Linked DNA regions of Homo sapiens. The protein of the gene in region 2 purifies or fractionates together with the protein of the main gene of each other region. This does not show direct contact. Each region holds a gene or a part of one and is shown on either strand. Other genes may lie near its edges.

Region 1 (3,644 bases), on a different chromosome or scaffold from region 2:
GATGTAGGGGCAGCGCTCGCCACGGTTGCACCTGCCGAAGCGGTTGTAGTACATGCAGTACTCCTTCCTCTTCTCCCTGCGCTGCCGCGCCTGCCGGATGATGGCCAGGCTGCGCTGCACTGCCCGGCTGCAGACGGGGAGAGAGGTGCGTGAGCCTGAGGGCGAGCAGGGAGCCCACCCACTGCCCAGCCCAAAGGCATTACCTGGCCAGGGAACGGCTACAGCTGCCTGCAGGATCCAGCCGGCCTGTGGGGGAGAGAGGCACGGGTCATAGCAGGCCACAGCCTGGCCCGCACGCCCTTTCCCTGCTGACCCCCTTAGTCGAGGCCCTCAGGGGTCCCAACACTCAGCTCAGGCACAGCCTCCCCTCCAGGAAACTGCCCAGAGCTCCCCTCCCCACAGTGGTTCAGATGCCCTGGGCCCTGCCAGGCCCCTCTGGGGACACAGCACCTGAGAGTGGGGAGCTGCTGGGCCCTGTGTCTAGCTCCTCTCCAGGGCAGGGTCCGGGCAGGGCTCCTGTCCCTGCCCTCAGAGCCAGCAAAGCCAGGCAGCACCCGCGGAGGGCTTGGCCACGTGGGCTGGAGACGCCCGCCTGTCCCTGCTGCCTCCCTGGCCAGGCTCCCCAGGGCCACGCTTTGCTGGCTGGAACCCCCCTGCTGGCTTCCTCATGTCCCTGGGTGCCCACCCTGGGCCAAGGCAGTGACTGGCCTATGGACACTGCTCCTGGCTCTCTCCTCAGCCCTGGCCACCCAGGAAGCTGCCCTGTAAACAGAACAGCTGCTAACAGCAGCACCTCCCTCTGCCAGGGCCTGGGCTGGCAGGACCCGCGGGGTCACTTAGACCAGGGGGTGAATATGGCCCATGGGGCACACATGGTCTGGCCTTTTGGGAGCAAGAATGGCTTCTGACTTTTAGAGGGCTATAAAACTAAAGACATGCAGCAGAGAAGGTGTGGGGGCAAAGCCCGCTTGGCGGAGGCATCTGCCCAGCTGCCCACTGCAGCTGTGGAGGTCTGGGGGAAGGGCACCTGTCCCTGAAGCCCTGGGCTGGCGCTGGCAGATCCTGGCTAGTGTCTGTTACTCTAAATTTTAGAGGTGCCTCATCAGATGCTCCTCAAAACCCCAAGCATAAGCACCACCCCCGCCTTTCTGAAACCGCACACCACGGCCTGGGAGGGCGGCCTGGGAGTGCGGTGGTGGCAGGAAGGAAATGGACCTTGGGGCTGGACATGGCCGAGTGCTGCCAGGCCTGAGAGCCAAGGGGATGAGGCGGGGAGGGGGTGCCATCTGGAGGAGGAGGGTCTGCTCCGGTGACACAGCCCTGCCTGCCTTTTACAGACAGAGGTCACCCAGGATCACGGGGTGGGCAGGGCAGGACCAGCCTGCTGAGGGCGGCTTTCCCGGGTTCCTCAAATACGCGCATGATCCTTCCCAGACCAGATCCAATTTCCTACAGGGCAAATGCTGAAATGGACACTGCAGTTAAGAGGCAGAGGTGACATCACTCAGAAATTCTGGGGACCTGAGGTGGTGACAAAGCCATCCTGGTTTAAAAAGGGATGTCCCAAAGCCGCCCAGCCCCAAATAGCCAGACCTGCCCCACTCTTGAGCACCAGAGAGCAGCCTCGTCCTCACTCTCCCAGATGGCCCAGCAGCCGCAGACTCCCACCCGAGGACCCAAGGCTTCCGCTCCCTCGCACCCCCAGGCTGGAGCCCCCCCCACTCCTCGCTTTGTGCTTTGCGTCCAGCCCAGTGCTCCCTAGCTAGGGTCAGTGGTGCTGCTGCCCTTCACCCTCAGGGGCCCTGCCTACTGTCCCCACTCAGCCCGTCTCAAGTTTCAAAAGGGCAGCTCCAGAGCTGAGTGGCCAGCGAGCCCGGCTGGGGCAGGAGCAGGAGCTAGTCATGGTACCTGGGGCAGGAAAGGGGGCGTTGAAGAACGCAGAAACCTGAGGCGTGTGGGGGGCCAGGGGCAAAGGGAGGGTGATGAGGGTCTTGGTGCGGAGGGACCAACGCGGGGGTGCTCAGGGCAGCCCCCGTTCTCAGGCCGGGACCCTTGTCCCCGGGTGGGCAGCAGGGCCCAGTCCAGACGGCACGGGCACGCCCTCACACCTGCCAGCCTGTGGGGTGAGGGACGCGGCAATGCGGCGGTCTGTCGGCACTGCTGGTTCCCAGTCTCTCGCCCAGGCTGCCAGTGACACTGCGACGCCATCTGCTCCAGGCAGGGACACACTGGCATCACGTGCCCGCCTGGCAGGACCGGGTGCAGCAGGAGGGGTTACCTCCCTTTCCACTTTGTGCTCTTTAAAAAAATGCCAGTGTGAGGCTCACGGCAGGAGTTCTGACAAGAACAGGAGGCACTTTTTCAAATGCTTTGCAGTGTTAAAAAATGCACATAAAATAGCTGGCTGGAAAAGAAGCAAGGGCTGCCTGAGAAGTGCTAAAAAGTTCAACTGAATAACCCCCAGCAGCTCCACAGCAGAAGGCGCCATGCATTCCAGAGAACTTTCACTTCCCCGGGATCTTCTCAGAATAGACTCGGCTCCCACCAGCCCCACCCCCTGCTCGGTGCCCCAGTGCCAGCTCTGGGCACCGCTGGATGTCAGGCTCTGCAAGGCAAGCGGGGTGGGGGCCTTGCAGTCAGAGGTTCCTCAGCACCTCCAGGCCCTGCTCCGGCCAGCACCCACTGGACAGCTGCTGCCTGGCCCAAGGGACAACATCCACGATGACCGGGGCACGCAGGCAGCCCCAATTCCCAGGCCAGCACTCTCCCAAGAAGTTAGGCAGGGCTGCGCCAAGCCCTGGTCTGCTCACAGCGCGCCCACCAGGCCCTCCAGGGCACGTCCGTCTGGCACATGGAGGCTGTGCCCTTGGGAGAAGGCAGCCAGCGGCAGAGGGTGCCCCAGAAGAGGCAGTGTGGGGCGGGGGCAAGCCGACAGGGCCTTCGTCACCCCAGGGAGGGTGGGCAGGTGACCAGCAGGGGAGGCGCAGAGGCCGGACGTGCCAGGAACACGCAGCAGCTGGCCCACAGCAGGGAGGGCCACGGCCACAGGTGGCTGGGGGCTTTGGGGACACAGAACAAGCCAAGGCCAGCCCTGTGGCCAGAGACTGGGGCCTCTGCCCCACCACAGGAGCCATCAGGCTCATGGTGGCCACATATGGGCCATGCTCACTGGGGGCCCACACAGGATTCTGTGGGGAGGGACCCTGGAGCTCAGGCCTTCAGGTGGCAGGCGGGCCCAGGAGGGAGGGCTCGGCTTCAGGGACTGGGGAAGCTGGGGGTAGAAGCCATACTGTCCTCTGCCGTCAGGGGCCCAGAGCCCAGGGGGTCAGCCAGGACAGCCACCCCCACCCCTTCCAAGAAGGCTGCTGCACTTTCTTGTTGAAGTCAAATTTCTGCTGACACCAGGGGAGGAAATTTATTTCTTTAATTATTATTCCTCTTAAGTGGGCTGGTCAGCGGTATCCCACAGCTGGGAGCCATCTACCTTCCTCATGGCGAGGCGGGGCCGGTGGTGGCCCAGGCAGCTGGAGCTGTGGCCTCGCCTGTCGACCCAAAGGGCGAGTGCGGCCTCACTGGGCTCTGCACAGCCCCAGGACTGCCACAGTCGCCACCAAGGCTGGCCAGCGGGACACCGGAGGCCATAG
Region 2 (3,644 bases):
GCAAAGAGAAAACAAGGGAGACAGCTGGGTGGGATATGGGGCTGAAACTCTTTTTTTAAGGTGAGAAAGCCTTGAGTGAAAGATACCAATAAAAAGGGGAGGCTGGAGTTATAGAAAAGGGATCAACTGACAGAACCCAAGCCCTGAGATGGGTGGAGGACCCCAGTACAGGTGAGGCAGAAGGCAGACCCCCCACCCTCTGGGCTGGGTGTGGTCTGGCTGGCAGCTCACCTGGTGAGTGGTCCCCTCAATCTCTATAGGCACTATGAAGTCAGCATTGTTGATTGGCTGGAAGGCAGAAAAGTTAATGCTGTCAGCATGGTGGCAAAGAAACATGAGGCCCCCACCATACCCCTAGGTGGGTGGGGAGAAACAGGTCTTAAAGACTCCTGGAAGTGCCTCTGGCCACCTCATTAAGGGGTTCTCACCCTAGTTCAAGATGTGATACCCCATTCTGGTTTTCCCTACTCCTTAGCACCTCCACTCTGACAAATTCTACCTGGGCTGAGAGTTTTGGGGCCTGAGTTTCCTGAGGAGACAAGCAGGGGCAAGGGCCAAAGGTGATCCAACCACTCTTTTAGGCCTGCCCTGTACAGAGCCCTCGTGGCTGGCTTTCTGTGCTATGTGGCTCGGGGGCAGATGCAGCCTGTTGGGAGTGACTGGAGATAGCAGCCCTGGTGGAACACACAGGGTTCCTACTCAACATTCTTCAGTGGGGCCTCTAGATACCTGTGACACAGGGTGGCCAAAATGCCAGAGGCCTGGCCTTTTCCCTTCTAATCACTCTTCTTTCCTCACCTTTAGGCTGCCTTACACATCTGTTGCCAGATTCACAAGAAGGCCCAAGATAAAGGTAGGAAGGGTTCCAGACATTGAGTTACCTTAAAGGAGCTATGCACAAGGGTTTCATCGAGGTCAATGACCACACAGATCCTTCCTTGATCTTCCTCTGTCACCTCTGGGAGCAGGCAGGTCCCTGGGATCTAAAACCAAGCCAGGTTGCTGAGATCTGCCTACCAAGAAAGCCCAATTGTACCCCTTGGCATAATTATGGGAAGAGCTGGGTTGTTTGTGGAGACACAATCACCAACCCAGGATAGGCACCACTTAAAGGCCAGGAAGAAAGGAGGTGGAGTTGTTTCCTTGGTTTCAGCCTCCCAGTGGGACTATTAAGTGATCTGGACATTGGAGGTGGTGGCCAGGGCAGGTGTGGGATGGACAGCAGCTGTGGGAAGAGGGCATGGAGCACCAGCTGTCCCCTAAAATCTAATGCCTTGCACATAGCAGGCCCTCAACAAGTATGGGGAACAAATGGCTTCCCAGGTCAGGGAGGTGGCTGGCTAGGCACCAAGGACTATGCACATCACCCTGCCCGTGGAGCTGGCAGGGATCACAGGATCCTGGCTTCTGAGTACTTACCAGGCCAGAGTCACGTACCTGGTAGAACTGGTACTGGAGACACTGGAGCAGATCCGACTGAGGAAGAGAAGGAGGTGGTCAGTGCCATCTCACTGCCTTTCCCACCCCATCCAAACCCACTGCTTCTGTCTTAAGCCTGGAGGGCAACTTTCTCCCCCAGACCCAGCCACCTGGAAGCTCCTACCATGTCAAAAGTGACTTTTCCTAGGAGTGGGGCAGGAAAAGGGAAAGGCTAGAGCTTCCTTTCCACATTAGGCCTGATGAAGGATGGAGAAGACAAGTGTCCCTGTTCTCGGCTGCCACTGCCTCTCAACTGGACAAAGTGAGGAACAGGGAACTCAAGTAACTGATTCAGGGACACAGAGTCAGAGGCAGAACCAAAGTCTGAATTCCTCACAGTGGCAAACTCTCGCTAAGTCCTTAAACTCAGGCTTCTCCTTGAGAACATGTTGTTTTCCATGCCCTCCTTAGGGGTTATGTGGGGGAACAAGCCCTATAAAACATCAAGTAAGCCACATTGTAGGTACCCAAAATGTGAGGGGAGGGAGTGCAGAGAGATCAGCAAGCCCCCCACCCCAATTTTTGCTAATACAAATGTTATGACCGCCGGGCGCAGTGGCTCATGCCTGTAATCCCAGCACTTTGGGAGGCCGAGGCGCGCGGATCACCTGAGGTCAGGAGTTCGAGACCAGCCTGATCAACATGGAGAAACTCCGTCTCTACTAAAAATACAAAATTAGCCGGTCGTGGTGGCACATGCCTGTAATCCCAGCTACTCGGGAGACTGAGGCAGGAGAATCGCTTGAACCCGGGAGGCGGAGGTTGCGGTGAGCCAAGATCGCACGCCATTGCACTCCAGCCTGAGCAACAAGAGCGAAACTCCATCTCAAAAAAAAAAAAAAAAAAGTTATGGTTTTAAGTGTTCTTAATGAAAACTTTGAAGAAAAATTAAAATCCTAGCACTTAGATAAACAATGTGGCATTCAGTGTACTGCCTTCAAATCTGTGTCCGCAGACTTTTTCCAGAATGCTATACAATTACACACTCTGCCTTTTTACTTAATGTTGCAACTCAATACTTCTCCATGTTATTGAGAACTCTGTAAAAGCTAATCACTCAGTAATACTGTCATGTTGTATTTTATTTAACCATTTCCCCTACTGCAAAATGCAGTGATTTTTCACTGATGTATGTCTTCAGCCTGGTCTTGAGAAAAAGGAAGGACAACCAGACCTCAGTGTTTCAGAGAAGTACCACTGGCTTTTGGGGCAGAATAATTTTTGTTGGTCGGGGCTGGCCCCACCTGTGAAATACTAGACATATAAAAAATACCCACAAAATCCCAAATGCCTTGCATGAGTATGGGAGAGAACTGCTGACAGGAGTTATTAACAGCATGGTAGAGTTTCAATTCCTTGGTTCCCTGTAACTCAGGTAACTTGGAAGTTAGCTTTGCATAATTGAGAACAACAACACAGGCTTTAGAGCCAGAGAAATCTAAGTTCAAATCCTGACACTACTATTTATTAACCATGAACTCTTCAGGTGCTACATAAACCCTCTACATAAATCCATATCTGCAAAGTGTGAATCCTGTGATCTCCTTACAGGGCTGCTGGCTGGATCACATGAGACAATATATGCAAAGCACCTTGCCTAGTTCCTGGAACCTGGAAGGATCAGGATCACAGGGGCCCTCAGAAACCACAGTGACATGTGAATGGCCCACACCGCAAAAGGGAAGGAACAGAAAGGAAATACACTACTTATGGAAGGATGGAGGAAGGGCCCCCTCTCAGCCAGAAATCTTTGCAACTTCAGGCAAAGCTTCCTTGTCCGGTTGCCATCGTCTGCAGGGATCTCCCATTAACAGTCCCTTCATTGCTGGCATCTTACCACCCCAACCCACCTACCTTAGCAATGGTGTTTGCTTCCTCCTTATACGCAGCGAGCTCAGTGGAGGAACTTGACTGGCCAACATGCTGGGCGCGAAAACAGCAGAAAAGGGCCTTGAAGATGTTACGTCCACGAGGCTTCTTAGGAGAGGACTTGGAGACCAGGCCTAGGGTGGAGAGAATGACAGAGGCTTTAGCTCTAGGGACATCAGTTTCTGTCCACAGATACTACCATGCCCATAGCTCTTCTAGTTTGTAAACTCTACTAGGGCACACAGTATACGGCTGGTGAACAACCACATACAGTTAACAGTCAAACATACATGTTT
Region 3 (3,744 bases), on a different chromosome or scaffold from region 2:
GCTGGTCTTGAACTCCTGGCCTCAAGTGATCCGCTATCTTCTGCCTCCCAAAGTGCTGGGATAACAGGTGTGAGCCACCACACCCGGCCCTGTTTTATCACTTTCATCACTCAATCCCCTGAGAATTATGACACCTAAACCAGGAAGCACCTCTGCACCTTATCTCGGACCCAGGATTCTAGGCTTCAGGGTCTCTCGTTCTGTTAAGAAAACAAAATAAGGACTCGTGCTGGGCGCTCACGCCTGTAATCCCAGCACTTTGGGACGCTGAGGCGGGAGGACTACTTGAGCCCAGGTGTTCAAGATCAGCCTGGGCAACATAGCGAGATCCTGCCTCAAATTAAAAAAAAAAAATTAAAAAAGAAAAGAAGTACTGGTTTGGACCAGGGAATCTGGGGAAGGAGAACTAGTGCAGACATGGGCTTTGGTTAAGCGGTCAGGGCACCTTCATAGCGCTGCAAGAAGCCACTACATGCCCACTTCCTCCCCACCAACAGCCCAGCTTCCAGTAAAGGGTCCATGACGCAGCTCCTCCAAGCAGCAGCGTCCCACCCTGATCCCTTACTCCTCAGGACTATTTACACCTCCCCCATCCTGCGGGCCCCACTTGAGACAGTGGTTCCTGAGAGCCGGGCCCCACTAGCAAGCCAAGGTATATTCTTGGCCTCCTGCAAAGATGCCCCTGTCCTATAGACCTCTGCGCGGACCGTGGGCACCCCCACTTCTCCAGGAAGAAGTAGGTGGGCAACACTCAGGGGAAGTCAAGCTTAGCGCCCCCAGTCTCCTCCCCACTTCGGCTCGGTCCCATCTCTCCAGGACAAGGCGCCAGCAACGGAGCCACAGGCCGCACCAGCCCGTCTTTGATCCCGGGTGTTCGGACTCAGGGCCTCCACCACCCCCTCCTAAACTCGGACCCTGGGCCGTGGGAACCCAGTTTAGGAACCCAGGAAGATGCCGGAACCTTCCTCAAACGAGGCCACTCTAGGAAATTGGGAATTTCACATATCGTTAGCACTCAGTCGACGTTTATTGGCCTAAGAACGAAAGAACCGGAAGATGCCCTTAAAAAGCGTGGCGGCACTCTAGCTTCAATCGGTTGCCTCAACATATCAAGAAACCTGGCATTGTATATGGCCCTCAAAAGATGACGCCACCCGGTCCACCACGGTTCAACGAGGACTAAGACATCTGCCCTCAACCATCATGGCGGCGCCACTCAGTTTGGCTTCCTGCCCCTAGGGATGATGGCCGCCAGGTGGCTTCACTTAGTTTCTCACCACCCCGGAAGACGGGGACCGGCGATTGGGCGGTGTCCAGAGGCTCCGAGAAGAAGGCCATCGGCGGTTGGGCAGCGTTGGGTAAGCTTGGTTTTTAAAGGAGCCGGAGGTGGGAGCTGCGGAAGACCCGGGATCCACGGGAGGCGGCGGTGAGCAGCCCTTGGGGGAGGGCAAGGAGTGGCTGGAGAGAGGGCGGGAGTGGGGGCGGGGAAGGAAACTTCTGAACCATCTGGTCCCGGGCCGGGGGAGACCGCTGGGCGGGGACGCGAGGAGGGAAGGGGCGTCTGTGGGCGGGACCTCCCGGGATTGGAGTGAAGAGGGTATCTGCTTGACAGTGGATCCCTGGGGATCTACGCTGAGTTCGGAGATGCTCCAGCTCGGGCCGCCCCTGTCTGAGCGGAGCTTTGCGGCGCTGAAGCTTACAGGGGAAGGAAAAGCCTCGCCCGGCGTCTGATTGGCGGAACCGCGCTGTAGGATTCTTTCCTCAGGGATCCAGTCTAGGGGATCTGGTGGGATGGAGGGTCGTCGATGTATGGAGTATTGCTTTGGAGTCCTCGGCCACTCGCTGGGAGAGGAGGAGGATCGCAGAGGGATCCAGCGGAAATAGCCTCCCAGGACCGGGATCCCCGTGGATCCCGGGGGATCTCGGGGCATAATCTGCAGGGACAAAGGCCTCGGGAGGCTCGGGCCGCGGGAGAACTGGGGCCGCTGCATTCTGGGTTCTGGCGGCAGGTGCCAGGCAGGGCGCGAGTGATCCGCTGATCGAGGCGGTGGCAGCGGGAGGACACCCGCTCCGGGCGACCGGCCGGGGGCGCCCTTTCGCGCCCCAGGGCTGCGGCCGCTGGGCTACGGGGAGCCGCGGGCGGACCATGAAGGGCGGAGCCCCAGGGAAGGGGCCGGCCCTCACCCCCCGCTCCCCCGCTCCCCCCTTACCCCAGGCCGCAGCCTGGGATTCCCCAGGGACCCCCCCGGAGCCGCCGCGTCTCCCATGGACTTGCCCGGGGACTCCAGGTGAGAGCGTACCCGGGCGGCCCGCCTGTCTTGACCCCGGGAGATGGGGATCCTGGCGACCGTGCCGGGAAACTACAGAGCCAGCGACAGGTTCGGGCGACCGTCCTCTGCTTCTTTCACCCTCCAGCCCGCCTGGCCAGCCGCGTCTGTGCCGCCAGCCTCTGACTCGAGCATTATGGGGAGCCAGGAGCCCGAAACGGCCGAGGCTGCAGCTCCCGGGGGCCCCTTCTCCCCTGGAAAAGGCCTCTCGGCGGGTCCTGGCCGTGGTGCTAGAAGATGTCATGGCTGTTCACATGGTGAGCCCCCTGAACCAAGAGACTCTCTATTCCCCCATGACTTTCCTCACTACCAAACTCGGGCCAGATCCCTACTGAGGATAACTGAAGTCCAAATCCATCATTGTTGTACTCAGCCCTCAGGCAGCCTCCCTCATGGTAGAGTCCTGCTTGGCTCCCACTTACTCCAACCTAGAATTGGGCAGTGCCCATTCCACCCACCAACGATTTTGGGCTGGAACCACATCCCTGTAACTCTGAGAAACTCTTCTGCTTCTTTTTTTCTATCTTTTTTTTTTTTTTAGAGACAGGGTCTTGCTATGTTGCACAAGCTGGTCTCAAACTGGCATCAAGCGATCTTCCCATCTCTGCCTCCCAAAGTATTGGGATTACAGGCGTGAGCCACGGCGCTGGGCCGAAACTCTTCTGCTTTCTTCCCAGCCCAGCCTCCTTAGGAAGCAGGCTGAGGTCTTTGACTCCACTGCACAGATAAGAAAAACTGGCCCAAAAAAGGCAGTGACCCACCCTAGCTCACCCTGTCTTTTTCATTTCTCTAAACAGCGTGGATGAGATTACCCAGGTCCTACACCTGCAGTTTAGGACTCTTAATATCTGGCCCCTAATTCAGTCCAATTCATCTCTTCTCTTGGGATCCGAGTGAATTCTAGCCCCAATCTCTGTTATGTTTGTGGCTCAGGGCACTGTGAGGCACAGGGAAACCTTGTCCCGTCCAGCCTCATTCTATCACCTTGCTCTTGACACCTCTTTCTCTTCCAGGTCCCCGTGGTGCCCTCAAAGCAGACCTCCATACCACAGCACCACAGCTACCATCAGGATCCTGTCCACAGGCAGCCGCCTGCCTCGCCACCCCGGCAGGCCGGGTGGTCCTCGCAGGCCAGGTGAGCATGGCAGGATGGGGGTAAGCCGAGGGCCCAGCTGAGCCATTTTAATCTTCCTGTTCCCTCGCTAGGCCTCCCGACCCTCTGTGTTTGTGTCGCGAGCCCTTGAGCCGCATCCACCGGACCTCTTCCACCCTGAGGCGGCGATCAAGGACAACCCCTGGCCCAGAGGAGGGCCCTTCACAAAAGGTGGACCGGGCCCCCCAGCCCACCCTGGTGGTGATGCTGGAAGACATCGCCAGTCCTAGACCCCCCGCTGAGGTATGGGAACTGAGGGTACGG

What was found.
Region 1: the proteins of CTDSP2 (region 2) and ZC3H3 purify together in Homo sapiens (affinity purification with mass spectrometry; 3 studies listed by BioGRID and IntAct, with this or other methods). This does not show direct contact.
Region 3: the proteins of CTDSP2 (region 2) and PRR14 purify together in Homo sapiens (affinity purification with mass spectrometry; 3 studies listed by BioGRID and IntAct, with this or other methods). This does not show direct contact.

The regions. Positions count from the first base shown.
Region 1 is NC_000008.11:143,468,414-143,472,057, forward strand, and holds part of ZC3H3 (zinc finger CCCH domain-containing protein 3), read right to left. Parts: intron 247-3,644; coding exon 204-246; intron 128-203; coding exon 1-127. UniProt on the Homo sapiens protein: Required for the export of polyadenylated mRNAs from the nucleus. Enhances ACVR1B-induced SMAD-dependent transcription. Binds to single-stranded DNA but not to double-stranded DNA in vitro. Involved in RNA cleavage.
Region 2 is NC_000012.12:57,826,115-57,829,758, forward strand, and holds part of CTDSP2 (carboxy-terminal domain RNA polymerase II polypeptide A small phosphatase 2), read right to left. Parts: intron 3,483-3,644; coding exon 3,334-3,482; intron 1,477-3,333; coding exon 1,438-1,476; coding exon of another isoform or gene 1,420-1,437; intron 984-1,419; coding exon 882-983; intron 289-881; coding exon 232-288; intron 1-231. UniProt on the Homo sapiens protein: Preferentially catalyzes the dephosphorylation of 'Ser-5' within the tandem 7 residue repeats in the C-terminal domain (CTD) of the largest RNA polymerase II subunit POLR2A.
Region 3 is NC_000016.10:30,649,381-30,653,124, forward strand, and holds the start of PRR14 (proline-rich protein 14), read left to right. Parts: upstream 1-1,579; 5' UTR 1,580-1,747; intron 1,748-2,215; 5' UTR 2,216-2,265; coding exon 2,266-2,288; intron 2,289-2,415; coding exon 2,416-2,584; intron 2,585-3,340; coding exon 3,341-3,462; intron 3,463-3,533; coding exon 3,534-3,723; intron 3,724-3,744. UniProt on the Homo sapiens protein: Functions in tethering peripheral heterochromatin to the nuclear lamina during interphase, possibly through the interaction with heterochromatin protein CBX5/HP1 alpha. Might play a role in reattaching heterochromatin to the nuclear lamina at mitotic exit.